Linked DNA regions of Homo sapiens. The protein of the gene in region 5 purifies or fractionates together with the protein of the main gene of each other region. This does not show direct contact. Each region holds a gene or a part of one and is shown on either strand. Other genes may lie near its edges. The genes, in order: GOLGA3, SCLT1, HOMER1, SPAG9, TPM1, KLHL21 and CROCC.

The links.
Region 1: the proteins of TPM1 (region 5) and GOLGA3 purify together in Homo sapiens (affinity purification with mass spectrometry, with the first as the bait; one large-scale study listed by BioGRID). This does not show direct contact.
Region 2: the proteins of TPM1 (region 5) and SCLT1 purify together in Homo sapiens (affinity purification with mass spectrometry; 3 studies listed by BioGRID and IntAct, with this or other methods). This does not show direct contact.
Region 3: the proteins of TPM1 (region 5) and HOMER1 purify together in Homo sapiens (affinity purification with mass spectrometry; 3 studies listed by BioGRID and IntAct, with this or other methods). This does not show direct contact.
Region 4: the proteins of TPM1 (region 5) and SPAG9 purify together in Homo sapiens (affinity purification with mass spectrometry; 2 studies listed by BioGRID and IntAct, with this or other methods). This does not show direct contact.
Region 6: the proteins of TPM1 (region 5) and KLHL21 purify together in Homo sapiens (affinity purification with mass spectrometry; 3 studies listed by BioGRID and IntAct, with this or other methods). This does not show direct contact.
Region 7: the proteins of TPM1 (region 5) and CROCC purify together in Homo sapiens (affinity purification with mass spectrometry; 3 studies listed by BioGRID and IntAct, with this or other methods). This does not show direct contact.

What each region holds. Positions count from the first base shown.
Region 1 is NC_000012.12:132,783,624-132,788,090, forward strand, and holds part of GOLGA3 (golgin subfamily A member 3), read right to left. Parts: intron 3,165-4,467; coding exon 3,070-3,164; intron 2,933-3,069; coding exon 2,716-2,932; intron 685-2,715; coding exon 541-684; coding exon of another isoform or gene 403-540; exon of another isoform or gene 245-402; intron 1-244. UniProt on the Homo sapiens protein: Golgi auto-antigen; probably involved in maintaining Golgi structure.
Region 2 is NC_000004.12:129,082,824-129,087,290, reverse strand, and holds part of SCLT1 (sodium channel and clathrin linker 1), read left to right. Parts: intron 1-4,467. UniProt on the Homo sapiens protein: Adapter protein that links SCN10A to clathrin. Regulates SCN10A channel activity, possibly by promoting channel internalization.
Region 3 is NC_000005.10:79,371,610-79,375,576, reverse strand, and holds the end of HOMER1 (homer protein homolog 1), read left to right. Parts: 3' UTR 1-2,941; downstream 2,942-3,967. UniProt on the Homo sapiens protein: Postsynaptic density scaffolding protein. Binds and cross-links cytoplasmic regions of GRM1, GRM5, ITPR1, DNM3, RYR1, RYR2, SHANK1 and SHANK3.
Region 4 is NC_000017.11:51,110,557-51,115,023, forward strand, and holds part of SPAG9 (C-Jun-amino-terminal kinase-interacting protein 4), read right to left. Parts: intron 1-4,467. UniProt on the Homo sapiens protein: The JNK-interacting protein (JIP) group of scaffold proteins selectively mediates JNK signaling by aggregating specific components of the MAPK cascade to form a functional JNK signaling module.
Region 5 is NC_000015.10:63,059,747-63,064,179, reverse strand, and holds part of TPM1 (tropomyosin alpha-1 chain), read right to left. Parts: intron 3,312-4,433; coding exon 3,241-3,311; intron 2,983-3,240; coding exon of another isoform or gene 2,907-2,982; intron 2,468-2,906; coding exon 2,392-2,467; intron 1,966-2,391; coding exon 1,903-1,965; intron 1,605-1,902; coding exon 1,535-1,604; coding exon of another isoform or gene 1,371-1,534; exon of another isoform or gene 117-1,370; coding exon 38-116; coding exon of another isoform or gene 34-37; exon of another isoform or gene 1-33. UniProt on the Homo sapiens protein: Binds to actin filaments in muscle and non-muscle cells. Plays a central role, in association with the troponin complex, in the calcium dependent regulation of vertebrate striated muscle contraction.
Region 6 is NC_000001.11:6,595,403-6,599,869, forward strand, and holds part of KLHL21 (kelch-like protein 21), read right to left. Parts: intron 4,051-4,467; coding exon 3,645-4,050; intron 156-3,644; coding exon 83-155; intron 1-82. UniProt on the Homo sapiens protein: Substrate-specific adapter of a BCR (BTB-CUL3-RBX1) E3 ubiquitin-protein ligase complex required for efficient chromosome alignment and cytokinesis.
Region 7 is NC_000001.11:16,970,198-16,974,431, reverse strand, and holds the end of CROCC (rootletin), read right to left. Parts: intron 4,180-4,234; coding exon 3,979-4,179; intron 3,797-3,978; coding exon 3,665-3,796; intron 2,968-3,664; coding exon 2,785-2,967; intron 2,073-2,784; coding exon 1,986-2,072; 3' UTR 1,468-1,985; downstream 1-1,467. UniProt on the Homo sapiens protein: Major structural component of the ciliary rootlet, a cytoskeletal-like structure in ciliated cells which originates from the basal body at the proximal end of a cilium and extends proximally toward the cell nucleus.

The DNA.
Region 1 (4,467 bases), on a different chromosome or scaffold from region 5:
CCTGGAGTGCAGTGGCGCGATCTTGGCTCACTGCAACCTCCGCTCCTGGGTTCAAGCGGTTTACCTGCCTCAGCCACCCAAGTAACTGGGACTACAGGCACCCGCCACCACACCCGGCTAATTTTTGTATTTTTAGTAGAGATGGGGTTTCACCATGTCGGCCAGGCTGGTCTCGAGCTCCTAACCTCATGATCCGCCCACCTCAGCCTCCCAAAGTGCTGGGATTACAGGCATGAGCCACTCGCCTGGCGAAGTTGGGTTTCTTATTTGCAACCAAAGCATTTGAACTGAGAAGGGTTCCACTATGAATTCTGTAACCATTCCACCAAAGAGGCTGTACAGTGATCCTCCCCAGAGGGCTGGAATCAGGGCCTGCCCCACCACAGAGCCAGAGGCCGACGGTCAGAAGGTGGCAACACCAAAAGTAGCAACGCTGGGCACACGGTGAAGTTTTGTTCTTCGGGTCTCACGCGTGGCGGCATGTCCAGGGCTCACGTGACCTGCCCCACGCTGCCGCCACAGCAGATGGCCAGGCCTCACCTCGTCCTCCAGCTCCAGCACCTTCTCCCGGGACTCCTCCAGCTCCTGGCTGGTCAGCGCTATGACCTCCTGCAGTTCCTTTTCCAGCAGCGTCTTGCTATGACTGACAGCCTGCAGCTCCGCCTCCAGGGCCTGGATCCTTTCCTAAGGGCCAAGATGGAACGGGCGCTTGGTCATGGGACAGGCCCTGACCCCCCTCACTTCCTGTGGTGCCGGCAGGCATGAGGCTGTGTGGCTGCACACACCAGACACCAGCTGTCTGACACAGTCTCACAACCTTCCTTTTTGTTAAAGAAGTTGAATTAACCGACCACAGCATGCACACGATGACACACGGGGATAGTTGGGACAAACAAAATCATCTCTTCAGTTCAATGCTTCAAAAATACAGAAGAAAATCTGACCTGCAGATAATGGCTATAAATCACCATCTGTGGCAAGCAAGCAGCACCAGTTGTAATAAATACCACACACATGCTCACGCACCACACATCACATACACACACTCATGTAACACACACCACGTGCACATGTTCACATCCCACACACCACACACACACGTGCTCACACCCCACACGCACATGCTCACACCCCACGTGTTCACACCCCACACCACACATGCACATGTGCTCACACCTCACACTGCATGCACACATACACCCCACACTGCATGCACACATATGCTCACATCCCACACACCATGCACACAAACACTCCACACGCTGCACACACACATGCTCACACCTCACACATGCACGGATACATGCAGGCACAGGTGTGCTCTCACACCCCGCCCACTTGCTGCCTCGATGGTACCAGGCCCTTGCCAAGCATGTTCCAGTACCACCTAACTTAACCCTTACATGAGAAGGTTCTCATTCACCTCAATTTGGCCTCATTTTGCTGAGGATCAAAAAGGTGAGAAATTTGCCAAAAGTCACCACTTGCGAGGGGTGAAGCCCGGACGGACACAAGACATCGGCTCGCAGCTGTGCTATTCCTCAGCTGCAACAGCGTGGCGAGGGGCCAGCTCTGCCCGGCCTTTGCGACCTCCCCACCCCAGCCCTTAGTGAGCCCAAAGAAAATGGCAACTGAATCAATCTCCCCAACATTTTACAAAGCAACCAGGTGAGAGGAAGCACTTGATTTATTTATTGAATTTCAGACACAGAGTCTCTATCGCCCGGGCTGGAGTGCAGCAGCAAAATCATGACTCACTGCAGTTTCAGCCTCACCTCCCAGGCTGAGGCGATCCTCCCACCTCAGTGTCTCAAGCATCTGTGTCCACAGGCACGTGCTACCATGCCTGGGTTTTATTTTTGTATTATTTGTAAATACAGGGTCTAATTATGTTGCCCAGGCTGGTCTCAAACTCCTGTGCTCAAGCGATCCTCCTGCCTCAGCCTCCCAAAGCGCTGGGATTATAGGTGTGAGCCACCGTGCCCGGCCGAGTTTATTTGACAAGAAAACCCCACGTTATGATACAGTCTCTTCCTACCCATAAATTCTTAAGTGGACAGGAGATAGAAACAAACCACATATAAGAAGAAATACTAAGTTGTCAGTGCAAGGACGTGAATTGGAGAATAATAAATAAAATGCGGATGAACTCACTCAGGTAGAATGTTATGCCTACCACGAAAGGTGACAGAGCACGGAGGGCCACGGCCTCCACGGAAGGCTCTGCTCAGAGCCCTCCAGAAAGGGCACCCGCTTGTTCTGGGCCACCGCAGCATGGCTACCTCTAAACGCTCCCTGAACCCTGTCAATCGCTGACCCCATGCCCTCACTCCTGCTTCTCAGTGAGTGCGGAGGCTGCTTTTCCTCCTGAGATGCGAGGAGGCGCAGAGGCAGCTGGAACGCGAGCGGACCAGGGCAGGCCCTCCCTCTGCCCCAAGGGAGCAGCTGAACTTCTCTGAGCCAAGGAGATTTCTTGAGGAAAATCAGGTGAACGCCACAGGCCACAGGCCATGTGGGGTTCATGAGGGAGACGCGAGGCAATGCTCAGTCACTGTGGGTTCCTGGTAACCTGGAAGATGAGCGGGAGTTTAGAGAGTTGCCACCTCCCACGCGAGCTCGGCCCCGCTAGGCTTTAGGGGACAACTGCTGATGGAGAGCCCTTCCCTGCACTGAGGGGCTGGTGACCCTGGCCGGGGATGGCACGGTGTTACCTACATGTAGAGCCAGGCTGCTGTCACTGCTGCCACCCTGGGCTCGGAGCTGGCCCAGCTCCGCGTCCGCAGCCTCCTTGGCCGCGAGGGCCTCCTGCAGGCGGCGGCTGAGGATGCCCACGGCGTTCTCGTAGGCCTTATGTTTGGTCTTCATCTCCTTCTGGGCGCTGGTCAAGTCTGAGCCCAGCCGCCTCATCTTCTGCTTCTGTTCCGTGATGGCCCTGGGGTGTCATGAGGGAGACACAGGAGGAAGCTGAATTATCCCGATGTGACCGTCTGGCATTCTGGTTCGCCTCCCCCCCGGCCCCCGCACCTCCCACCTGGCCCCCGCACCTCCCCCGGGCACATGCAGACTTACTTCCGGGCCTCTTGCTGCAACTCTTCGATTTGTTTCTTCAGCGCCTCATTGGCCTCTGTGACCGCGACCATCTGCTCCTTATCGAACTGCAACGACTGTGGAAGGGAAGGAGGGCGTGAGGAGCGGCACTGCCACCCCCAGCCTGTCTCCCCTTCCTGGCTCCAGCCCATCACCCCCACCAAAGGCACTGCTCAGGCTCGCCCTGGAGGACTTGGGCCTTGAGAAAAATCCTGAGAGAGACGTCTGCCTTCTTACAAACCACTCTTTTTTTTTTTTATTGAGATGGAGTCTCACTCTGTCACCCAGGCTGGAGTGCAGGGGCGTGATCTCAGCTCACTGCAACCTCCGCCTCCCAGGTTCAAGTGATTCTCCTGCCTCAGCCTCCCGAGTGGCTGGGACTACAGGTGCCCGCCACCATGCCCAGCTAATTTTTGTATTTTTAGTAGAGACAGGGTTTCACCATATTGGTCAGGCTAGTCTTGAACTCCTGACCTCGTGATCCACCTGCCTCGGCCTCCCAAAGTGCTGGGATTACAGGTGTGAGCCACTGCACCCGGCCACAAACCACTCATTACTGAGACCAACAAGCGTTTCCAAACACTGTCCAGAGCATCAGAGGCACAACAGGACATGACTGGTTCATAGGAAAGCCTGTGGACCCAGGACCTCTCCTCCAAACCCTCAGGACCCAGGACCCCTCCCCAGGGCCCCAGGAACCCTCCCCAAGGCCTAGGACCCCTCCTCAAGGATCCAGACCCCTCCTAGGAAACCCCAGGACCCCTCCCCAAGAGCCCCCGGGAACCCTCCCCACAAGCCCCTGGATCCCCTCCCCACAGTCCCCAGACCCCTCCCCCAGAGCCCCCAGGACCCTTCCTGAGACCCCGGGACCCCTCCCCAGAACCCCTGGGACCCTTCCCCGGAGACCCCGGGACCCCTCCCCGGAGACCACGGGACCCCTCCCCGGAGACCCCGGGACCCCTCCCCGGAGACCCCGGGACCCCTCCCCGGAGACCCCGGGACCCCTCCCCGGAGACCCCGGGACCCCTCCCCGGAGACCCCGGGACCCCTCCCCGGAGACCACGGGACCCCTCCCCGGAGACCACGGGACCCCTCCCCGGAGACCCCGGGACCCCTCCCCGGAGACCCCGGGACCCCTCCCCGGAGACCCCGGGACCCCTTCCCGAGACCCCAGGACCCTTCCTGAGACCCCAGGACCCTTCCCTGGACCCCCCCCGGATGCCCTCCTCAGGATCAACTGTGAACACTGAGGGCCGCGTCCCCGACCTGCTCCTGCCCTCGCAGCCTTTCCCCAGCTCCTGTGTGCGAGGCGAGTCCCCACAACCAGCCCAGGCCTGCAGCTGTGGGGTCCGAACGTGCTCTGCCCGCACTGCTGAGTCC
Region 2 (4,467 bases), on a different chromosome or scaffold from region 5:
ACAAACTTAATTTCTTTAATAAATAAAGAGCTATTCAGTACTCTGTATTGTACTCGAGAAGAACCTCTGCAGGTCTCACATTCCCTAGGGTTCTTTCTCTGTGCAGTCTTCTATCCTTTGTCCTGCCAATTCTAGTTCACTTAATCTCCACTACTTCTCAGCTCCACCTCTTAATAAGAGTCCAGTGGTCTCCACTTGCATTTCCTCCCCCCGTGTCATGGCCCTGGAAAGTCTCTTAAGTCATTAAGGTGGGGCAATCATAGGGCTTACCTCATTTGTTTCTTGTCTCTGATTATCATTGTCTGATGTCTAGTGTACTATAAGGTATTGATGATTTTTTTGCTTGCTTTTTCATGTGTGTCAGGCAGAAAAGTGGTCCATGTTATTTCTTCTTGAGTATAAGCAGAAGTCCTATTCAAGTTGCCCTACTTTTTGATGTCTTAAACTCAAGTATCTTACTCCTACTATAACTGTTCTTTGACCTCCTCATCCTTTGAGCCCTTCATTTTCTTTACCACCTTGACTGCTTCCCAGTTTGTTTTTACTGGTGTCTTTTACAGGCTGTAACCATTGCCCATTAGTCCTTCTGCGCTTGTCAGTAATCTTAATATGATTATACCCCTGCTTTTCTATAGCTGATGCCCAGTAACACCTCATGCCATGATTGGTTGGTTTGCCTTTACAGTTCTCATACCAAATGCTGTTTAGTACCTATAGATAGCTGAACCCTCTGGATAAGTGCCTTCACAAAGTCAAGGTTAACAGAGCTAGTAAGTGACTGAGCTGGGATTTGAACCCAGGCAGTCTAGTTTCAGTGTCTCTTTTCTTAACTGCTACACAAAAAGCATACTTGCAAGAAAGGAAAACTGTAAACCTGTTTCACTTATGCATGTTGGAACTAAAATCCAAAATAAAATATTAGTAAATTGAAACTAACAATGAATGTGTGTGTGTATATATATATATATATATATATACATACATACACCAGCATCTTCAGGTATCCAGGAAACGCAAATTAAACAAGCCAGATAAGTACTTGTAGAATGAAGGAAATAATAACATTTAAGTTACAGTAAAATTTTCTCCAGATTATAGTCAATCTATGAAGATTGAAAGTGTTTCCCTCATTATTAATACATAATTTACTTCTTATCCTATTTTAATTACTGAGGACACAGATCTAGTTTTTTTCTTAATTGAAAACTCTGTCAGGGAAAAAAAAAGAGGTTTGTATTGTGATTAATTTTTTGTTTTAAGTTTTTCTTTTTTTAAAATTTATCTTTTAAGTTCAGGGGTACATGTGCAGGTTTGTTATATAGGTAAACTTGTGTCATGGGCATTTGTTGTGCAGATTATTTTGTCACCCAGGTATTAAGCCTAATACCCATTAGTTGCTTGTCCTGATCCTCTCCCTCCTCCCACCCTTCACCCTCCAATAGGCCACCGTGTGTGTTGGTCCCCTCCATGTGTTCTCATCATTTACCTCCCACTTATAATTGAGAACATGCCGTACTTGGTTTTCTGTTCCTGCATTAGTTTGCTAAGGATAATGGTCTCCAGCTCCATCCATGTTCCTGCAAAGGAGATGATCTCGTTCTTCTTTATGGCTGCATAGTATTCCATGGTATACATGTACCACATTTTCTTTAGCCAGACCACCATTGATAGGCATTAAGGTTGATTTCATGTCTTTACTCTTGTGGATAGTGTTGCAATGGACATACATGCTCATGTGTCTTTGTGGTAGAATGATTTATATTCCTTTGGGTGTATACTCAGTAATGGGATTAAAGGGTCGAATGGTATTTCTGTCTTTAGGTGTTTGAGGAATCGCCACACTGTCTTCCACAATGGTTGAACTAATTTACATTCCCACCAAAATGTATAAATGTTCCTTTTTCTCCACAACTTCACCAGCATCTGTTATTTTTTGACTTTTTAATAATAGCCATTCTAACTGGTGTGAGGTAGTATCTCACTGTGGTTTTGATTTACATTTCTCTAATGATCAGTGATGTTGAGCTTTTTTTTGTATGCTTGCTGACCGCATATATGTCTTCTTTTAAAAGGTGTCTGTTCATGAGCTTTGCCCACTTTTTAATGGGATTTTTTTCTTGTAAATTTGTTCAAGTTCCTTATAGATGCTGACTATTAGACCTTTGTCAGATACACAGTTTGCAGAAATTTTCTCCCACTTTGCAGCATGTCTGTTCACTCTGTGGATAGTTTCCTTTGCTGTGCCAAAGCTCCTTATTTTAATTAGTTTCCATTTGTAATTTTTGCTTTTGTTGCAATTGCTTTTGGCATTTTTGTCATGAAACCTTTGCCTACTCCTGTGTCCAGATGGTGTTGCTTAGGTTGTCTTCCGGGGTTTTTATAGTTTGGGGTTTTACATTTAAGTCTTTAATTCGTCTTGAGTTATTATTTATATATTGTGTAAGCAAGGAGTCCAGTTTCAGTCTTTTTTCATATGGCTTGCCGGTTATCCGAGCACCATTTAAAGTAGGGAATTCTTTCCTCATTGCTTGTTTTTGTCAGGTTTGTTGAAGATCAGATAGTTGTAGGTATGTGGCCTTAATTCTGGGTTCACTATTATGTTCCATTGGCCTATGTGTCTGTTTTTTGCACCAGTACCATGCTGTTTTGGTTACTGTGGCCCTGTAGTGTAGTTCTAAGTTAGGAAACATGATGCCTCCAGGTGTGTTCTTTTTGCTTAGGATTGCTTTGGCTATTCAGTCTCTTTTTTGGTTTCATATGAATTTTAAAGTTTTTTCCAGAGAAACGTTTCATAGTTTTCTGTGTAGAGGTCTTAAACATCTTCTGTTGTATTTATTACTGGGCATTTATTTTTTTTTATGGTACTATAAATAGCATCTTTTACTGTTTTCTAACTTTATGCTGCCAGTATCTAGAAATATAATTAATTTTTATATATTGACCTTGTATCCAACAACTTTGTTAATCTTCATGATTGATTTTTAAGTATGTATCTGTGGTTTTTTTGGATTAATCACATATGCACTCATAACTATGAATAATGACAGTTGTTTCATCTTTTCCAGCCTTTGTGTCTTTTAGGTCTTTTACTTGCTTTACTGCATTAACTTAGACCTCCAATAGAGTGTTGAGTAAATGTCATAAGAATTTATCCTTATGTGATTCCTAATTCAAGGGAAAGTTTTCAACATTTTTACTCATGAGTATGATGTTTGTTGTGTATTTTACGTAAGCATTCATTATAATAACAGTGTTCCCTTCTAGTCTTACTTTGATAAGGCTTTATCATGAATATATCTTGAATTTCATCAGGTGCTTTTTTAAAATAACTTTTGAGATGATCATATTTCTTATCATTTTTTGTGAGTTTATTTTCAATTTCTTTATTTTCTGGGCTTATCTTTATTTACTCCACTTGGCTTTCTTTGGATTTAATTTGGTGCTGTTTTTCTAACTTCTTGGAATGCATTTGTAACTTCAGACTTTTTCTCTAGTATATGCAATTAAAGCTACAGATTTCTCTTTAAGCAAGTTTGGAGGTATCACATTTTCACTATTGTTCACTTCAAAATACTTTAAAATTTATTTTGTAATTCCTCCTGAGATCTTTCTTCTTTTTTTTTTCTGAGATAGAGTCTTGCTCTGTTGCCCAGGCTGGAGCGTAGTGCAATCATAGCTCACTGTAGCCTCAAAGTAGCCTCAAACTCCTAGGCTCCAGTGATTCTCCTACTTTGGCCTCCCAAAGCAGTGAGATTATAGGCATGAGCTACCATGCCTGGCCAAAAGTGATTTCTGAACTTCCAAACATATAGAGGATTTTCCTTTTTTTTTTTTTTTTTTGGTTCTTGATACTAACTTAATAGTGCTATTGTAAGATAACATACTGTCTTTGGTTTCAGTCCTTTGAACATTATTGAGACTTTCTTTTACCAGTGAATAATCAACATTAAATGTTCTGTGTGATCTTGAAAAGAACGTGTGATTGCAAATTTGTTGGGTACTATGTTGTATGTATGTTACTTTTCTTGATGTAAATAAAAGTATGGTCTTGTTATTTCTTTTTTTTCTTTTTCTTTTCTTCTTATTCTTTTTTTTTTTTTTTTTCAGAGTCTCACTCTGTCACCCAGGCTGGGGTGCAGTGGTGCGATCTTGGCTCACTGCAACTTCTGCCTCCCGGGTACAAGTTATTCTCCTGCCTCAGCCTCTCAAATAGCTGGGATTACAGGCGCATGCCACTACTCTTGGCTAATTTTGTAGTTTTAGTAGAGATGGGGTTTCACCATGTTGGCCAGGGTGGTCTCGAACTCCCGACCTCAAGTGATCCATCTGCCTCGGCCTCCCAAAGTGCTAGGATTACAGGCATGAGTCACCGGGCCTGGGCTGGCCTTGTTATTACCAAGACCTCTCACCTTTATTCTGGGTCTTCTTCCCCCATTGTCTCTTACCCACTCCTGTTTAATTTGGATT
Region 3 (3,967 bases), on a different chromosome or scaffold from region 5:
ATGAAAGCCTGTCTTTTGTTGTAATCTGAATAATTTCTCAGGATATTTTTGCACTGCTGAGAAGCAGTGCCATTACCAATTAATTCTTGCCAGGAGTGAGAGAGAGCTGTATCTTTAATTGAAATATACTATAACTGGGTGTATAGAGTTCTTCCCTTTTTTGTGCTGGAAGATATTTCACTCTGGTGACTACTCTGGTACACTCTGGTGTTCTCTAATCTTGTCTGTTGTATAGTTTACTTTTCCATATTGATTCCATGTATTTATGAGAAGATATTGTCTCCCATTTTATTACACATTTTAAAGCCAACTAACGAAGGCAGCTGAGTCCCTCAGAAATTTTTCTTTTTAAGTTTCTAATAAATTTGACACACAGTACTGAAATACAGCAGCCCGTCATTGACAGGCTGGTCTAGCAATGTTAAGTATATTTACAGAATATGCAGTTACATTTATTTATATATTTTGCAAGAAATCTTTTCTGAATGATCAATGCATTTCAATTTACGAATAATAATGGTTATTGGGGAACTGTTTATTATAGATAATTTTAAGGTGTATAGCTATTTTAAAGGGGGTCCATTTACATCAAACAGCTGATCAGAGGACTCTATCTAAATTGTGATCGTGGCAGATAGAGATGGAGTCATGTACTCTATCTGGCTCTACACATCAATCACATCTTGATTCAAACCTCACAAGGCAATATTCTGAATTGTTAACTAGGTATTTCAAAACAGGAATTAAATTCAATAGGCTCTTCTCAGTGAACAGGTTTTAATGTTGTTTTGATGTAATTTTAAAAGACTTTTAGCAAACATGCATTTCTTTATATGATATATTTCTTTTACGAAGCTATTTTAAAAGTAAGCCAAGTGCTGTCTAGTCTGCTTATAAAGTAGGAATTGCATCAGAGTACATATATTCTTGCTGTACAATGCCTGTGATGTTGAGGAGGGTTCTTTTTTAAAGTGTATGCTTGAGTAACTGACTCTATGGAGTCTATAAATGCACTGACTTCTTGTTTGTACCCCAAAATGATCGAATTGTTAAGTACAAAATTAAGCTAATTAACCAATTTGTAACCATTTTTTCACTCATAAACAGCTACTCAATACTAGACAATTTTGTTTTTTATGTATGTGTATGTACGTAAATACATACATATTAATTTACATTAGAGTGAAAAATAAATGGTTTGTTTCTGAAGTTAGTTTCTTAAGTGAGTTTTCAGGTGTCTCTGAAAAATTTATAACAATCATGTATTATATGTGCTGTAACATCATGTACGTTACCTCCATCTATTTTAGGATATTTTCCTCACCTATATATTATAGGGAGAATAATTTAGATACACATGCTCAGAGCTGAGATATTTCTCTGATAAATCAGGTAACAAAATGTATTTGATTGATGGAATTTTGAAGTAAATGTGTTTTTATCCATCAGTTTCTGAGTAACAAAGAGCACCAAGTTTTAATTTAAATAGGAGATTTAACACTAGGGATCAGGGAGTTTAGTATGAAGAGTTAAAAAAATTTAAAAAACAGTGTAAGCTGTTGAAATGGCAAGTGAATTATTTTAATGATGTAATAAAATATTTTTAAATTTTGACATAGTGATCATTTAATGAAAAAACTCACCAAAATGTCTCCATTTGAATTGTATTGATAATGTGGGACATATGTGTGATTCAATATATACATATACCCATATGTATATACAGAAAATTATTTTTAATACTTTCCTACTGATAATGAAATTTAAAATTGGAAATTTTGTGAGTGTTTTTCTTGTCCAATAGAGCCTAATTGTTTCCTTTTTTAGTGATTTAACAATCTCTTGAGGGCTGCACCTTTAAATTCCCAGATTGTCAATAGACATGTACAGTATATGGGATAAGGTGGACACAAGTGCACATATAAATAAAATCTTCTTAAGACTTTTAACTATTCATTTACAGTAGGAGAGTATGTAGAAATCATCATCCACAAGTCATAATTAGGTTGTGTGCCTACTGTAGTTTTTTCCATTTCTGTATTATATAAACATTTGCATATTAAAATTTGATTTTTCCCAGAGACAAGTATTATATACTGTATCTATATTTAAATCAAACTGTGGTAATATATTTCTCAGAAAATAATGTTGGGGACTATAGCCTGAACATGTGGACTTGAAGCGACATGGAGGAGGAGGTTGATCCCATTGTGTATAAGTTAATATGTGATAACTATTGAATCTTGTACAAAAACAAAAATTGAAAAAAAAAAAGAAAAGCAAAAATACAGTTTTTATTTTGAAATACATTTGTTCTCTGGAGAATGTACTTTATCTTTTTTTCCTCCAGTCTTTTACAGATATTTAAAAGCATTTAAATGATGACAGCATTTACTTAAATCTTTCAGGTGCTACTGGATTTTGCATTAGTGTGTTATGTTGTGAAATCCTAACTTTGACATAAAAGGTTTTATAAGTATTCCCCTGCCTGGAAAATTAGTTTTTGTTCTCCTCTCTCTCTCTTTCTCTTTTCCACTTTCTTTCTGCAGACTAAAACATGCTCACGAAGTTGCATCTCTCCTTGTCTCTATAGAAGATCTCCAGCACCATCATAGATTTGATGTTCTGCTGTCATTGAACTGTTGGGAAGCAGTTAGAGGAAAAGCTCACTTTTTTTTTCAGGTGGAAATAAAAGGAACACTCAAAATTAAGCCAACACCACCACTACCTTTAAAAACTAGTTTATTTGCCCTGTTAAAATTAAATGTATTCTTTAACATGTGGGCTACAGTCTCCCATGTTTTTATTTAACTGAAGCATATACACTTCGGTCATTTATCTCCTTGTGGTCCTGATTTTGTCAGTACTGGAATGGGAGGCAGGTCGGGGAAAGTTTGTTTGATGGCAGTGGATTCTTATTGTTGTTTTAACCATTGCATTTATTTGATATCAAATGATTTTGACATCCTGAAATTCTGTGCTTGAAGTCATGAAATGATTTTCATTGAATTTTTGCCTCCTAAATGTATAGCATGAAGTAAATTAATTTATACAAAATCTTAAGAAACCTTTCAGGTAAGAAGTAGTTGAGATTGACACTGTTAGAAAATTTCTCAATTTCTAAATTTAGAAATTACTAGAAAAGGAAAGGATGTGTCATTCACCTTACTCCAAATTGCGAAAGTGTGTTTTTTCCTAATATTCGTGTTAAATTTTACCTTAAAATTTTTATGATAGTTTTTCTTCATGAGAAACTGATATATAGATGTCACGCAAATACAAGCAAAGTTACTGAATTAAAGTAGTGGGTACTTAGCATTTTTTGTTTATATATTACATAGTAAAATAGCTAAAAATCATATCCCAGAAAACTCAAAAACTCAGTCAGCACTACACTGCCTGGTGGTTTCTGCTTAGTACACTAAATAGAAAAAAAAAAAAATTTTAAGTGATTTTTACCAAAAACTTGAACTAGGGAGAAATTGCATCAGGACTAGAATAGACAGAAGGCCACAAACTCCTAGTCGACTTCTTGTCAAGTCTCTGATCTCTGTAAGGACCTCTCTTTTAGGTTAAAGGACACACTGCTTCTCGGCCTTTTGGCTAAGATCAGGTGTAGGTTAAAGGACATATTCCAGAAGCCACCCAGATTATATCTGGGTGGGAAGAGGATATTTTTTGTGAAAGCAGATGCAGAAAAAAGAGCAGGAACATGCTGCCTTCAGTTTTTATCTAAGGCATATCAGGATAGCCAGAGACACAGACCAACTATTTCCTACCTTGCTGCTGCTTTTAACCAAACAGATCGAGATGGCACTGAGTTTCAGAGACTTTCAGAAAACCCTGTCACTTGTCTTGTCAGGATTTGTAACCCAATATAAGACACCTGACATTCAGAACTCACCATTTTGTGGGATTCTGACCTACTTTTTTTTTTTTTTTTTTTTTGAGATGGAGTCTCACTCAC
Region 4 (4,467 bases), on a different chromosome or scaffold from region 5:
TGTACACCTGTAGTCCCATCTACTTGGGAGGCTGAGACGGAAGGATGGCTTGAGCCCAAGAGGCAACAGTTGCAGTGAGCCAAGATCGCACCACTGCACTCCAACCTGGGCCAGACCTTGTCTCGAAAAAAATAACATAAAATAAAATTCTATACCCTCAACTTGGTACTTCTCTATTACATTAATATATAAATTCCCATGGTTCACCTCACACATTTTTGGGTGTGCCTATTATGCCAAACTACTGAATGCTGTAATTCTTAAGAAAATAAAACACAGTATGGCCGGGTGGGTGGCTCATGCCTGTAATCCCACCACTTTGGGAGGCCGAGGCGGGCAGATCACGAGGTCAGATTGAGACCATCCTGGCTAACGCAGTGAAACCCCATCTCTACTAAAAATACAAAAAATTAGCCGGGTGTGGTGGCGGGCGCCTGTAGTCCCAGCTACACGGGAGGCTGAGGCAGGAGAATCGCTTGAATCCAGGAGGCGGAGGTTGCAGTGAGCCGAGATCCCGCCACTGCACTCCAGCCAGGGTGACAGAGCAAGACTCCGTCTCAAAAAAAAAAAGAAAAGAAAACACAGTGCTATGTTCAAAGCAATAATCAAATATCACTGGTCAAGATTTCAAAGTAAAAAACAGAACTTATATATACCCATTTCCAAATAACAGCTTTTTAAATATATATAACATTACATACATTATTAAACTGGTCTATGCAGATATTTCTGACCACAACCTAATAACTTATTTAGATAACAGCTGTATTCATTGAGTGCAGAGCAGAGCAAAATAACTTGGGTAGGTTCTAACATCAGTTCTCCTGAGAAGCAAAGTTCAGTACAACATAAGTAAGCAGCATGTAGTTAAAGGTAAGGTAAAGATTTCAAGAAGCAGGAATCCTGTACTCTCTCAAGCACAGAACTGGATGTGTGACCTATGGCACACACTTCAGCAATCCAGTGAATAGTCAATCTACTAATCTACCCTCTGAACCAGTTTGGTACTATACCCAGTTTGGTGTCCTCTTTTGTGATTTTTTTTTGTTTTGTTTTTTCTTTTGAAGACACAGTCTCACTCTGTAGCTCAGGCTGGAGTTCAATGGCAAGATATTGGCTCACTACAACCTCCGCCTCCCAGGTACAAGTGATTTTCCTTCCTCTGCCTCCGGAGTAGCTTGGATTACAGGCGTCCGCCACCATGCCCAGTTAATTTTTGTATTTTTAGTAGAGACGGGGTTTCACCATGTTGGTCAGGGCTGGTCTTGAACTCCTGACCTCAGGCAATCCACCACCTCGGCCTCCCAAAGTGCTGAAATTACAGGCATGAGCCACCATGCGTAGCGTTCTTTTGTGATTTTTAACTAAATAAAAATATGAGTGTCACTACAGCAGGGACACATAATGGTATCTCATTTAGATATTCACATTCAGAAATCTCAAATTTAAAAAAAGATGTCTTAATCCAGAGCTAGTCTTTGTCTTTAAAAAAAAATGTCTTAGGAGCTTAAGTAATAATTAACTAACAAATTATTATTTCATAAAGCAACAACCATACCCCTTCCCATCCCACTCCCGCCAGAAAACAAACATAGATTGTTCATTTCAGAAAGTGTCTGAATGACTAGGTGCAGGGGCATATCTCTATCTACTCTGGCTAGGGGCAGTGTGAACATTATTCGAATCGTTAACCATGGCCAGGTGTGGTGGCTCACACCTACAATCCCAACACTTTGGGAGGCTGAGGTAAGAAAATGTCTTGAGGCCAGGAGTTCAAGACAAGCCTGGGCAACACAGTGTGACCCCATCTCTACAAAAAAAAAAAAAAAAAAAAGGCCAGGCGCAGTGGCTCACACCTGTAATCCTAGCACTTTGGGAGGCTGGGGCAGGCAGATGACTTGAGGTCGAGATCAAGACCATCCTGGCCAACATGGTGAAACCCCATCTCCACTAAAAATACAAAAATTAGCTGGGTGTGATGGCGCGCGCCTGTAGTCCCAGCTACTCAGGAGGCTGAAGCAAGAGAATCGCTTGAACCCAGGTGGTGGAGGTTGCAGCAAGCCAAGACACTCCACTGCACTCCAGACTGGCGACAGAGCCAGACTCTGTCTCAACAAAAAAAAAAAAAAAAAAAAAAAAAAAACTTTGGCAGGATCCACAAGGCAGGAGGATCCACTTGAGCCCAGGAGTTCCAGACCAGACTGGGCAACATAGTGAGTTCAGCTTGCATAACATAACGAGACCCTGTTTCTACAAAAAAAATTAAAAATTAGCCAGGCATGGTGGCGCATGCCTGTAGTCACAGCTGCTCAGAGGCTGAGGAAGTGGGATCTACTTGAGCCCTGGAGGTCAAGGCTGCTGTGGGCCATGATTGCACAACTGCACTCCAGCCTGAACCTCATCTCTAAAAAAAAGAAAAAAAAAAAAACCCAACCAAAGGAAAAAAAAATCACAAAAACAAACAGTTCAGAAAAAAAAAATGGTATTTTTAAAAATATGAAAAAATGTTGGCCGCTGCCGGGCGTGGTGGCTCACACCCATAATCCCAGCACTTTGGGAGGCCGAGGCCGGCGGATCACCTGAGGTTGGGAGTTCGAGACCAGCCTGACCAACATGGAGAAACCCCATCTTTACTACAAATACAAAATTAGCTGGCCATGGTGGCACATGCCTGTAATCCCAGCTACTCAGGAGGCTGAGGCAGGAGAATCCTTTGTATCTGGGAGGCGGAGGTTGCAGTGAGCTGAGATCGCACCATTGCGCTCCAGCCTGGGCAACAAGTGTGAAATGCCATATCAAAAAAAAAAAAAAAAAAGAAAGAAAAGAAAAAGCAAATAGGTTGGCCGGGCACAGTGTCTCACACCTGTAATCCCAGCACTTTGGGAGGCCAAGGCAGGTGGATCACCTGAGGTTAGGAGTTCAATACCAGCCTGGACAACATGGTAAAACCCCATCTCTATTAAAAATACAAAAGTTAGCGAGGTGTGGTTGTGAGCACCTGTAGTCCCAGCTACTCAGGAGGATGAGGCAGGAGAACTGCTTGAACCCGGGAGGCAGAGGTTGCAGTGAGCCAAGATCGCGCTACTGCACTCCAGCATGGGTGGCAAAGCAAGACCCCATCTCAAAAAAAAAAAAAACAACAACAACAAAAGAAAATAGGTTGGGTGCAGTGGCTCACACCTGTAATCACAGCACTTTGGGAGGCTGAGGTGCGAGGAATGTCTGAGCCCAAATATTCAAGATCAGCCTGGGCAACATGGGAAACCCATTTCTACAAAAAATACAAAAATTAGCCAGGCATGGCGGCATGATCCTGTAGTCCCAGCTATTCCGGAAGTTGAGATGGGAGGATCGCTTGAACCCAGGAGGCAGAGGTTGCAGTCAGCCGGGATTACACCACTGCACTCTGGCCTGGGCAACAGAGTGAGATCTCGTCTCAATCAATCAATCAAAAGATCTATAAAAATATTAAAATATGTGTTTTTTAGGCCAGGTGCGGTGGCTCACGCTTGTAATCCCAGCACTTTGGGAGGCCGAGGCAGGGGGATCACCTGAGGTCAAGAGTTTGAGACCAGCCTGGACAACATGGTGAAACCCCTTCTCTATTAAAACTACAAAAATTAGCCGGGCGTGCTGGCGCGTGCCTGTAATCCCAAACTACTAGGGAGGCTGAGGCAGGAGAATTGCTTGAACCTGGAAGGTGGGAGTTACAGTGATCTGAGATCGCACCACTGCACTCCAGCCTGGGCGACAGCACAAGACTCTGTCTCAAAAATAAATTTTTTAAAAAATGGGCCAGGCATGGTGGCTCATGCCTGTAATCCCAACACTTTGGCAGGCCAAGGTAGGCAGATAACAAGGTCAGGAGTTCAAGACCAGCCTGGCTAACATGGTGAAACCCCATCTCTACTAAAAATACAAAAAGTAGCTGGGCATGGTGGCTCATGCCTATAATCCCAGCTACTCAGAAGGCTGAGACAGAAGAACTGCTTGAATCCAGAAGGCAGAGGTTGCAGTAAGCCAAGATCGTGCCTCTGCACCCCAGCCTGGGCAACAGAGCGTGAAACTCAGTCTCAAAAATAAATAAAATTAAAAAATAAAATATCAAGTGTGGGCCAAGTGTGGTGGCTCACGCCTGTAATCCCAGCACTTTGGGAGGTTGAGGCAGATGAATCACTTGAGGTCAGGAGTTTTACACCACCCTGGCCAACATGGTGAAACCCTGTCTCTACTGAAAATACAAAAATTAGCCGGGTGTAGTGGTGCACACCTGTAATCCCAGCTACTCAGGCAGCTGAGGCAGGAGAATTGCTTGAACCTGGGAGGCAGAGGTTGCAATGAGCTGGGATAGTGCCACTGCACTCCAGCCTGGGTGACAGAGTGAGACTCTGTCTCAAAAAAAAAAAAAATTATGAATGAATGAGAACACTAAAACAAGAACAATGAATGTCAATACCTATTTTCCTG
Region 5 (4,433 bases):
GGCAGGGTGTAAGCAGGCAGAGTGGATGAACGTTTACATGGAAGTCATATCGTTGAGAGCGTGGTCCAGCTCCTCGCTGATGGCTTTGTACTTCAGTTTCTGAGCGTACAGCTCGTCTATGACCAGGAAGTGGAAGGCAGAGGTGCAAGAACATGGAGAGTGATCAAGAAATGGAGGGTGAGTGAGGGTGGTGCGCGCACCATCCCAACACAGCAGCAAGAAAAGGGCAATGCATGAAGGGGTTGGTGCCGCAGCAGGTGGCCAATGCAGGAGGCGTGCGTTTTGTTTTAAGTAAATTGAAACAAAAACAAAGAGAACAAAACCCATTAGAAAATAAAATGAAAAAGACTCAATATGAAAATCCTAACAAATATGGTAGGTATATCAGTAAACCATGTTAAATTGTAAACGAAACCACAGAAGGCTGTCTCCTGGTGAGGGGAGGCAGGGGCTAATGGAACATCTTTCTTTTGCAGAGCTATATTTTAATTACACTGGAGTAGTCAGGCATCTGCAGCTATAAACAATGGGAAAAAAATGCAAGGGCAGTGTTTTGGAAGAACAATTTGTGACTACAGCCTGTAGTCCTTATCTGGTTCCACCTTCAAACCACTGACTTCCTGACCACACTAGACCACTGGGATAGCGATTTCTTAGTGCCATTTAAGCTACTCCTGTGGTCTTCCCACTCAAGCTGCCTATTACTGGTCCAGGAGGCTTGAAAAGCAATGGGCGCCACACTTTATATGGCAAGTCTGCAACTTAGTTTTTGTAATGCTGCAGGTTTCATACTTTGCTGCACTTTGGCAGATCATTTTGCAACCATTTGTCATTCTCTCTTCTCCACTATTTTGGTTATTATCTGCACCAAACACTAGTTCCTTCTCTAATCCCTTCTGTGATGTAGATATTTGTCTTTTTTCTTTCTTGTTCACAGCTAATCCTTCACAAGCTTCAAAGCTCAACATTTAGGATATCTGTGAGATAGAGTGGTTATTACTAAAATAAAACCTAAGTGCCTTAGGGAAGAAATGCTTAAGTATAATTTTTCCCTCCTCCTTCAGGATATAAAGTATTTTGTTAAGATAATATATGACTTAAAATAACCCCTAAATCCTTACTTTGAATTCATACTTGGAAGAAGATGGGTTCTTCTAAAAACAAGACCACAATCACCACATCATTCCCAATTTAATTAGGAAGTAACACTAAAGATATAAAATATACTAGAGTCATTCTCACCAATAAGCACCTCACTCACAGTGAAAAATAAACCTGCCACACTTGTAATGAGCATGAAGTCAAGCTGGATGGCATTTGCCACTATGGCTGGTGGCTAACTAGTCACCTCGTGAGCAGAAGACTTAGGTTCATGAGTTCAAGAGCCACAGAGAAAAACCCCAGAGGACACACAGGAAGAATGTGCAAGTGCAAAGGAGCGTATCAATGTGGATGCCCTTGAATTGGAAAATTGTTTTGCCAGGTTGGTATTCAACCATAAGGATTAAACTAAAAACACTACTTAAGATCTTACCTTCTAAGTCATCAATGCTTTTCTCCAATTTAGTTACTGACCTCTCCGCAAACTCAGCCCGAGTCTCAGCCTGTAATGATTTATTTGAGTTAAAGTTGGGAAGTTTTATGTTTCCTGTAGCTACAAACATAGGGAAAACTAGAGGATGAAAATGAAGCACATCACCTATAAAATGGATCAGAAACTACTTGTCAGTTTCAGTCACCTCTGTGAGAAATGGCAGTTAGCACAGTACATAAACTCCAAGGCGACCTTTGAATATTCCTGACTTGGATCATTGGAACTTTAAAATGAAAAGGCCCTGACCGGTTCCATGAAAACAAACTCATTTAAAATCCAGTTGGCTTCATCCACAACTCTCATATTACCTCCTTCAGCTTGTCGGAAAGGACCTTGATCTCTTCCTCATATCTGTCTTCCTTCTGCGAGTACTGTAATTAGAAAGAGCATTCCAGATGTCAGGCTGCAGCTCAATCTACTCATGGCTTCTCATGCAAAGAACTCGCCAGCTCAGCCAACAGATGTTAAGGATCTCTTAGGAGGTAATGGAACCTCTGATATCAAATGGCACACTGCAATACATTCTCTGCTTTCTTGCCTATTGTTTTACATGGGATAACAACAAGATAACTTATCCACTTGGCACTTGGTTTAAATTAAATTGATGCCTCATATCCCTAACATAAAATAAATTCTCTAGTTAAAAAAAAGAATTTGTTATCTAGTAACTCTCCAAAAATCACCTCACAATATTGCCATTTTACTAAAATGTCTACTGTAAGTGTTGCTTTCTGGCAGGGCCTCTTTTGAGCAGCTCTTAAAAGATGCCTTTCCCCCACACCATCCTCCTGGCCTACCTTCTCAGCCTGAGCCTCCAGTGACTTCAAGTTGTTCGTCACAGTTTTCAATTCTTCTTCAAGCTCGGCACATTTGCTAATGTTTTCGATCAGAGGCAGAAAGGGTGGGAGACAAGCCAAAGGAAGGAGGAGAGAAAAAGGAGAGGGATGGGAAAAAATGAAAACTGAGTCCTAGAGACGAAGGGCTGCCTTAAAGTAGCCAAATCATCAGGTATTAAAATGTTTAGGTTTTCCAGGAACACTGCCCCCCAACCTCGCAACAGCAGAAGGCAGGGTGACCAAATCCAACAACTTTGAAGTGCGATAATTTGGCTCCTTTTTTGGCTGCCCAAAGAGCATTTATGAAGGGAAAACAAAGGAGCATAAAGGACCAAGGGAAAGCACTTAAGGCAAGATATAAATAGCAGAGGGTGAAGTGAAGGTGCAGTCGTTATACCAAACGAACCAGGAGGCATTGGAAGCTGAAAGATGTCTGGGTTGCAGTTAAACCTAAAAACCACACGAGCCATCAGTACCTTATCCTCTGCAGCCATTAATGCTTTCAAGGTCTGATCCATTATTCTTAATTGTTCTTCCAGCTGTCGGACTTGGCTGTTAGTGGACACAGGAAATGCACAAGGCCATTCACAAAATCAGTGTGCAGGTAAGGCATGCAGTGATACACGCATTCATACATAAGACACCCCACACGAGTCCTCCATGTTCCATACTCGTGGCTCATCCACATCAAATGAGCACAAAAGGAGCCCGGAGCTGAAACAGGTAATGTGCAGCTGCCAGAAGGTCATGCTGTTTAGTCACTGCTCTGCAGCACCCCATTCGTGGCCTCCTGGCGCCGGGCCCGCTTACCCTTCTGAGAGCTCAGCCCGCTCCTCTGCACGTTCCAGGTCGCTCTCAATGATGACCAGCTTACGGGCCACCTGCAGCAGGAAGACACAACACACACACCATGGGTCTTGCAAGCTTTGTGTAACAGAAGGGCATGGGGGTAGAGATCAGATCCCATCAGGCCCTAAGGGTTTTGTCTACAAACAATATGATCCTCTTTCTGGTAGACCAGAGAGAAGCAACTCTCTATTAGGAGTGCCAGCAGAGAGGAGATCAGAGGCTTCTGCTTTGACTCAGAATGGTTAGCTGTGATTGGGCAGTCTCAATTGGAAGTCTGACCTAGGTGAACCGGCAGCCAGACCAAAATGTGGAAGGAGGGATAAAATACACATTCACAATCTCAAAAACAGCAGTAGGATGAGACATGTACTAAAAAGGTGGGGGCTGCCAGGAAAACAAAGTAAACCTAAGAACTCCATCAATTTGATGGCTGATCTGTGCATCTACCTCCTTACTGCAGTGGAAGAATACAAGAGACACTAACGTGAGACAAGTTGGTGAGATAACTGACAAAATCAAATTTGTATTTAGTGGAAGAACCAGAGAGAGGAAGGGAGCCTCTGAAGCAGATCAAAACTTGTGAGCATAGTGTAATCTGAAGGTAATAATGGTAATAAAAAGGAGGGGCAATGCTGTTTCAGGATAGCCACGATGTGATCCAATAAGGAAAAAACAGAAACCTTAATAATCAAGTTGCCTCTTATCACAGGAGGCTGTTTTCATGGGGACACGACCAGGAGCAAATTCTGCTGAAAACCTGCGTTGATAATAGTTTTCTACCACCCTTGAGGAGAGAGGCCTCTGTGAATCCACTGAGAAACTGTCTGTGGTCTCTAAGCTGCCCAATCTGGATGTGCCAGGTCACTCTGGGAAGAAATGACTTGCACCATGACAGCATGAGAGCCTCCTTTCACAAGACACAGGGCCCAACTCTCCCTTCCGGCCAAAGATCTTTTGTCCGGGTCTTTGTGGCTGGGGGAGAGGAGTTTTGGTCCTTCTTCGCAGTGCTACTGATTGGCTTCCTGATAAAGCCTGGGATCCCCTAGCAGGATTAAAATTAGAACCGTTTTCTGGACACAAAGGAACTCTGCTTCTCAAAACCACCCATTTCTGCCAACAAAGCAGATGGCCTCACTCGGGAATCAAGACTGTAC
Region 6 (4,467 bases), on a different chromosome or scaffold from region 5:
CCAAACACTCATCACGATGACACTTGGGTTGCAAAATCAGGACCAGCCTGTGCTTCCAATGCTGGCCCGCCTGAAAATTTACCTGATTCATGGACGGGATCTTGTCCCATTCGTTCCTCGTCGGGTTGTACACGTCCACCTCAGCGGAGTCATCCCTGTGGAGGGGGCAGCAGGAGGACAACTGCTCAGAGCGAGGAGGAAGTGCACACATGCAGGGCTGGAGCAGAGTCCTCCCCTGGGTCACTGACTCCTCCAGTGACCTGGATCTTTCTGATGCCATCCAGCAGCACCCTTGCCAGGTAGGCTCCATCCCCAGCTCTTAGGAGCCAATTTCAGCCCCCTGTGCCCACTCAGCCAGGGCTCCAGGGCCAGAACTCTCACTCCCAAACCTGAAGATCAGGCTTTTGAGTACTTGAAGCCCATTCAGTGCCTCCCCATCACCCAGTACCAAGGTGGCTGTCCCCCACCCCCCAAGCCTACAGTAGCTCCCTTGAGATCTTAAAGAAGCCTCCTTGCTCCACTGTGCATCCCCACAGGCCCTGGAACACTCCTTGCCACTGTCCCCAATATCACTATGAGCCCCCAACCCTGTCCTGTTCACTACTATGTTGAAGTACCCCTCACTTTGGGGTCAAGACCCTTCAACTTCATCTGACACCCTTTATATCCCCACAGTAAAAGGCTCAAAGGCACAGCCTTGAAAAGCAAAGATGCAGGCCAGGCACTGTGGCTCACGCCTGTAATGCAGCACTTTGGGAGGCCGAGGCTGGTGGAGTGCCTGAGGTCAGGAGTTCGAGACCAGTCTGGCCAACACGATGAAACCCCGTCTCTAGTGAAAATACAAAAATTAGCCAGGTGTGGTGGCATGTGCCTGTAATACCAGCTGCTCAGGAGGCTGAGGTAGGAAAATCGCTTGAACCCGGGTGGCTGAGGCAGGAGAATCTCTTGAACCCGGGAGGCGGAGATTACAGTGAGCCAAGAGCGTGCTATTGCACTCCAGCCTGGGAGGCATAGTGAGTGAGACTTCGTCTCAAAAACAAAAAAAAGAAACAAAGATACTACAAGACAAACAACAGTAGTTGTGAACCTGACACGGCAGCACAAAACCAGCCACAGACAATGCATAGACACGAGCCTGGCTGTGTGCCAAGAAAACTATCCATGGACAGACATTTACATCTCGTCTAACTTGAAATGTTATTCCTGATTTTTTGCCCCCAATCATTTCAAAATGTCAAAGTCACCCTCAGTTTGTGGGCCCTGTGGTGGTGGTGATGATGATGATGATTACACCCTGGAACCTGCTAGGCTGCCCTGTCTTTCCCCAGCAGAGACTTGCAAACCACAGCCCAGAGGCTGGACAGAGCTCGCCGGCATTCCCAGAGGGGGCTACTGCACCCCAGCCAAGGAGGCATTTTGTACCAGAACCAAGGGGAGGGAGGCCCAGGTCATTTGTGGGTCACATGGACAACGGCTGAGGCTGTGGCCTCCCTGAGAATGGCACGTCCTAGGCACAAGCTGCCCAAAGACAGGTGGTGTTCTGGGCAGAGGGTTATGTGGCTCTTGAAGAGCCAAAGTGCGCAGACAAAGTGACACCGGGACAAATAGCCCAGGGGGACCAGCCCCAAGCAGGGCCCCTGCATGCTTAGCCTTCTCTTTAGGGCTCAAGCAGCTTCCACTCAGGCTGAGCCTGGGCGCCCCTCCTCTGTGCTCCGGCACAGGTCACACTGGTAAGATGAACGCATGCAGCCTTTCCAGAGCACTGCCTCCTCCCACACGTGCAAGTGGCTTAGGAAACCCCTGGAAAGGTCAGCAGTGGGTGGGGGTGGCGGGGCAGACCCTCATGCTTCCCTATGGGAAGGTTAACCCAGCAGGCAGACCTCCCTGGCGCACATCTTCACATCTTGCTCTAGGACAGATGGGGGAGGGGAGGAGGACTCTCAAAGACACTGGGCCTGGAACCACTGCCTAGGGGCCGAAAGGAAGGTTCTGGCCCTCTGATAAGTTGTATTTATAGCCATCTCCACCCCCTCTTTGAAGACACCTTCACAACTTGGGGGAGGGAGAGCCGGGCAAAGGGTCAGATGATGTTTTATAATGGGACCAGAGCTGGCTGAGATTCCAGGGCTTTCTCAGAGCAAGACCATTGGTTCTGGGCATGTGGTGGTGCCCAGCTACTTGCGTGACAAGCAACGCCACCCCTGTTCTTCTTGGTGCTCACTCCAAAAGCCTGGTAAGGAGCCTCCTGTCTGGGGGGATGGTGGGGCAGATGCCAAGGCCAGGGCAGCTCTGGCAGTGCGAGGCAGGGGGCCAAGGAGCAGGGAGCTCACATCCCCCAAGCTCCCCATTCAAAGCCCCAGCACGAAAGGGCACAGTGGGGACTGTCATTCAGTTCTTCCCCTTCCCTCCTGGACCCAGAGCTTCAGGCAGGCTCTAGGCTGGGAGGGAGCAGCAGGATTATGTGAACAAGCAGCGGAGTACAGCAGGGAGGGGCTGCCCCGTGCCATCATTGATGCCCAGAAACCAGCCGGAGGCAGCATTTGGCTGTGACCAGACAGGTCATCAAGGCCAGCAGACATATGATGACCCGCAGGCTGCCTGTCTCTGCTCCGTGCTGCTCAGCCTACAGCCTACTCTTGCTGGAAGAGCTCAACTCCACCACCTGTGAAATCGCTTAAGAAAGCCTGGGGTTTTCCTTAAACCCAAAGGAATGGAACAAGCACTGTGGGCTCCGAAAGACCAGGCCTGGCTGGGTGTGGGGGCTCACACCTACAATCCCAGCACTCTGGGAGGCAGGAAATGTGAGACGATTGTTTGAAGCTAGGAATTTGAGACCAGCCGGGGCAATACAGCGAGACCCTGTCTCTACAAAAAGTTAAAAAATGAGCCAGGTGTGGTGGCTTGTGCCTATAATCCCAGCACTTTGGGAGGCTGAGGCAGCTGGATCACATGAGGTCAGGAGTTCTAGACCAGCCTGACCAACATGGAGAAACCCTGTCTCTACTAAAAATATAAAAATCAGCCAGGCATGGTGGCACATGCCTGTAATCCCAGCTACTTGGCAGGCTGAGGCAGGAGAATGGCTTGAACTTGGGAGGCAGAGGTTGCAGTGAGCCAAGATCGCGCCACTGTACTCCAGCTTGGGCAACAAAAGCGAAACTCTTCTTTTAAAAAAACAAAACAAAACAAAAAAAAACAGACCGGGTGCAGTGGCTCACGCCCGTAATCCCAGCACTTTGGGAGGCCAAGGCGGACCGATCATGAGGTCAGGAGATCAAGACCATCCTGGCTAACACGGTGAAACCCCGTCTCTACAAAAAATACAAAAAAATTAGCCAGGCATGGTGGTGGGCGCCTGTAGTCCCAGCTACTCTGGAGGCTGAGGCAGGAGAATGGCGTGAACCCGGAAGGTGGAGCTTGCAGTGAGCTGAGATTGCGCCACAGCACTCCAGCCTGGGCGACAGAGCGAGACTCCGTCTCAAAAACAAAACAAAACAAAAACAAAGAGACAGACCCAGCCTCCAACCCCAGCTAGGCCTCAGTTTCTCATCTGTGGAAAAGGGAGAACAGCCATGATGTGTGCTTAAGACAGGGCCTGGTAAGAGACACCAAACACACAGTGGGGCTCGGCACCTGGAACTCACCTGACAAAGTACATGAGTCCGTTTAGAGTCGCAGTCTTGGGGGCGAAGGACCAGGGCGGGAGCTGGCCGCAGTCCACCAGCGACCACAGGTCGGTGTCCGGGTCGTAGCACTGCATCACCATGGTCTCCTTGCCAGCCAGGGAGCCGATGGCATAGAGCCGGCCACGGCACGCAGTGGTGGAGCAGTTGTCCATGGGGTAGGTCATGGGCTGCAGGGCCTCCCAGGAGTCAGTGGTGTGGTCATAGCGCTCGGTGCTGTCGGCGGCCACCACGTACAGCAGTCCGTCCAGCACAGAGGAGCTGTGGTACTCGCGGGCCTTCAGCATGGGCGCCACCTCCGCCCACTCATTCACGCTTGAGTTGTACCTCCACACGCAGTCATAGAGCCGGGAGCCATCGGACCCACCTGCCAGGACGCATGACAGGCAGAAGATCAGCCCACTCAGGTGAGTCACCCACCTGCACCCTCCCGAACTTCCGCAAGGGCCTCTGCCTTGGGAGGAATTAACATCACTGGGCTTCACCCCAGACGCACACCCTCTCCCCAAAAGCCCAGGCCACATGTTGTGGCTAAGGCAAAGCACACGCTGACCACTGTCCAGCGAGATGACTGCTGCCAAGCCTCTACCAAACAAAGGTCCTGAGTGCAATGCTGGAAGAATCCAGCAGCCTCCTCTGGACACCGCCCCCCAGCCATACATACACCTCAGCAGACCAGAGCCCTGGGCCTTGGGACAGTTCTCCTGGGGAGCCACAGAGCTTGTCAGCAGGGCACACAGGGACTTGCTCACTAACTCCTAGGCTTCCTGGGCACCCTCCAAGC
Region 7 (4,234 bases), on a different chromosome or scaffold from region 5:
AGGCTCCTGACCCCTTGGAGTGAACGATCTGCTCAGGTGCCCTGTGCTTCCGCAGTCCCAGCCCCACCGCCTTACCCGCCGGCTCCAGCTCTGCCCTGCCCAGAACGCTGCGTCATGACAGTGTACGCGCGCATGCGTGTTGTGGGAATTGCACGGGAGATGGAAGGCTTCAGGGACACAGCTTTCTGATGACCGGGGCTGCTTGGTGAGCACATTGAGTTCCCATCACCAGAGGAACACAGCAAAAATGGGAGGCCGCCCATGGGGTGGGGGGGGCACAGGGTCAAGGCAGGCGGACTGACATCCAAGGCCTTTGTTTGGGAAGTTGGGGAGATGGGTGCCATTAAGAGGGCAAAAAAAGCGGGGCACAGGGACTCACACCTATAATTCCAGCACTTAGGGAGGCTGAGGCGGGCGGATCACTTGAGGCCAGGAGTTCGAGACCAGCCTGGCCATGGCGAAATCCCGTCTCTAGTAAAAATACAAAAAAAAATTAGCCAGGCGTGGTGGCGTGTGCCTGTAATTCCAGCTACTCAGGAGGCCGAGGCACAAGAATTGCTTCAATCTGGGAGGCGGAGGTTGCAGTGAGCCGAGATCGCGCCACTGCACTCCAGCCTGGGCGACAGAGCAAGACTGTGTCTCAAAAAAAAAAGGGCAAAAACAAGCAAGCCATTGTAACACCTCCCTCCAACCAGCATGTGGGGCCTGGGCTCTGTGTGTGAAGGCTCACACACTCCTGTTTAGCCGTCCGAACAGGCATATGTGGTGGATGCAATTCATATCCCCTTCTTAGAGACAGGAAAACTGAGCCCAGAGACGTTAAGTAACCCACCCAAGGGTCCCACCCACGGGTCCACAGCTATCAGTGGCAGTGCTGTGGCTGAATCGGTCAGCTGGACTCCAGCAGGTGAGGATGAGTGTTAATTTCTCCTTCGGACACTGATTGAGCACCTCCTATGTGAACTTCCCCAGAGCCACCCTATGCGGTTAGGTTCCCATTTTACAGATGAGCAAACTGAGGCTCTAAGAGGTTAAGCAGCTTTGCTCAGGATCACTCAGCGGTGCCAGGGCAAGACCCCACGTTCACATCCAAACCTGCACTTGTTTGCCATGCTGCCTGGAAGGCCTGTCACTGTCCCGAGGGTGGGCTTGGATCTAAGGAGGGGCCAGAGAAAGGGGCAAGAAAGCATAGGCTGGAAGGAGTCGAGGTGCACAGGCTGGGCCCAGTCCCAGGCCTCAACAGCCCCATCTGTTCCATGGGCCGGGTGACCGAGTACCCCAGAGGCCTCCCCATCTGACATTCTGTGAGGCTGGTAAGTTCCCTTCCCAATACCGGCCTCTCTGCTCTCCCTGCCGCCTCCCCAAGCACCCCTCCCTAGAGGGCCCCATCCCTCTTGCCCCAGACCCTACCTGTCTCCCCCCGACGTCTCCTCCAATTGTCTAGAAAAGGGACACAGCTGTACAAACTTTTTTAAAAACAAGGTTTTGTTACAAAAAACAGTTCTGAACAGTTAACATTGTAAAAAGGTATAAAAATACAGGGACTCTGAGCACTCTGAGGAATTTCCCGACACATGCTCTTAACTAAGGCGGAGAGATCTCTGGGAAGCCGAAGTCAGGGCCTGGGCCTCTGACCCCTGCCCTGGGCCTGGTCCCCCTCCTCTTTCCCACGATCCCATGCTCCAGGGCTGACCAGAGACAAGGGCTCTCCCCAATCCTGGCTACGGCTCAGCCTCTCAAGGAGGAACTTTAATGATCTACAGTGGCTCATCCTAGAAGAGGGGGGCTGGACTGCAGGTGTTGCTGGGAAGCCTCTCCAGGCCTGGAGCTGGAGTACCCGTCCTCAGCACTGCCAGCAGAGCGCCTCCTCATCCCACCCCAGCTTGAGGCCCCCAAGGGACCGGGCTCTGGGTGGGGGGGCTGTCCAAAAGAAGGGTCCTCCCCTGTCCCAGGCACAGGGGTGTTCTCCAGATGCCAGCAGGAGCTCATTTCTCTGGGGGGCCGGAGGGTGGGGAGAAGGGTGCTGAGCTCCTTCGAAGCTCCTGCTGCAGCTGGCCCTTCAGTGTGGACACCTGGGGAAGAAAGGGAAGGTAAGGCCAGCCAGGTCCTCAGCCTGGCTTCAGAGAAAGGGAGGCAGCAGGGAACCCGGAGGGACACAGTGCCACAGTTTCAGGAAAGGTCTGGTCTCACTGAGAGCCAGGGGCTGTCCTGCCTTTCTCATTTTGTTCCTTATAGCAGAGTCAGGCGTCTTCTGACTGTTGGGCACCTTTGAGGGCAACTCCACCCCCATTCTTTATCCCCATCATCACTTGGGTGGGCGTGGCTTCAGCCCAGACCCAAGGGGTGGACATGTGACCCAGCCCGGCCTAGCAGAGAAGCCTTGCCCGGCCGACAAGGCTGGCTCAGGCATGGTCAGGAAGGGGTATGTGATCTGAGCGGGCCAGTGAGGGACAGCCTTAGGACTTCTGCCCCTGCTCTCTTCTGAGATGACAGATTGCTGGGAGAACCTGAGGCTGGAGCTGCTGAGGCCACCTGGCCACCCAGGGAGAAGGCTACCCTGAGCATGGAGCCAGGGGGAACAGAGCCATGGCAGGAGGCCTGGGGCCCAGGAGCATCCCGTGGCCCCGGTCTGGTCTTGGCTGACACCAGCGCAGAGCCAACCCCACCCTTTTCGGTTACGGGAGCCATCGACTGCCTATACCCACAAGGTCTTGATTGGGTCTCTCCTCTTTCTGCAGCCCCACACATCCATCCTGGCCCAGCCTTCTAAGGGGGCCTGCACACCTGCTCCTCCAGCCCACGCACCCTCTGGCGGTGGGCCCGCTCCCGAGCCTCCAGGGTGCGCTCAGTCTGCGCCTGGGCGCTGCGCAGCCGCTCCACCTCCTGCTGCAGCTCCAGCTGCTGCTGCTGCGCATCCACCTCCAGCTGGGCCGGGCTGTGGCTCTGCTCCAGCACCACCACCTGCGCCTGCAGGGAGGGGCTGTGGTCCGCGTTCTGGCCCAGTGTGAGTGTGTGTGTGCATGTGTGACGGGTTGTCAGGTACCTCCCTGGGACACGGCCAGTGCAGAGGGGGAAGGCAGGAGAGATCCTTGTGTGTCTTCCATCCTGCTGGCCCTGACAGTGAGCCTGCGAGCCCAGGATGAGTGCACCCAATGACCCCCACTCAGGCAGGTGCATGGACACACACACACACACACACACACACACACACACACACACACTCAGACATCATACACACAGGCACAAAGGCAAGCATGTAAATACCTATCTGGACTCACACAGGTGCATGTGTATGTGCAAAGGCCCAACTCCCCCATGCATGAAAACATCTGTACACAAACACATATTCATAATACCTAGACACGCCACACCATGCACAAGATTCATGCTCCATACACAAGAATCGTCACATGGATTCTCACACTGCTGCATGGCCACAACGTACATGAACCCACAGGCTCACGTGCAAACAGGCCTTTCGTGTCTTTTCTGTACACCTTAGGGAGAACCCATCCCTCCATGGCCCGCTGGGTCACTGGAAGGCTCAGGGCTCCTGGGGGAGGGGGTTATGGGCCCTGGGCTGGCTGGGCCATCAGCTCCACTGGAATTGCTGAGCACTCATACTAGGGATGAAGTTGGGGTCCCGGACTGGGTGGGGTCAGACCTCCAGCTGCTGGATCTGCCTCTGCGCCTCTGCCAGCTCCAGCTCAGCCCCCGTGAGGGTGCGGTCCAGGCGGCCCTTCTCTGCGCTCAGCCGCACTGTGTCCTCATGGCTACGAAGCTTCTCCCGCTCCACCTAGGCAGGAGAGCCACAGGAGATCAGGGTGCCAGGAGGAGCTTACTGAGGGGGCTCAGGTTCCTGAACCCTGATGGAATAACCTAACCCCACCAGAGGTAGCAGACCCTGGGGATGTGCAGTGGGATCCACCACGGTTAGGCCCCAGAGGAAGTGAGGGGAGAGCCTGGGGAGCAGCCTACCTTGTCCAGCGTCCTCCTGAGGGCTACACGGTCCTTCTCCAGCCGCAGGGCTGAGCGCTCCACCTCCCGCTTCTCAGCTTCCAGCTGAGCCAGGGCGCGCTGCAGGCTTCCCAGGCGCTCCTGCAGCAGCCGCCGCTCGTCTTGCAGCTTCTGGACGGTGTTCAGGGCTGCAGCCTCACCCTCCTGCCGCTGCCGCAGCACCTGCAACAGAAGCCAGGCAGGCCCCGAATCCCTCTGGGCCTGAGCATACTTATCT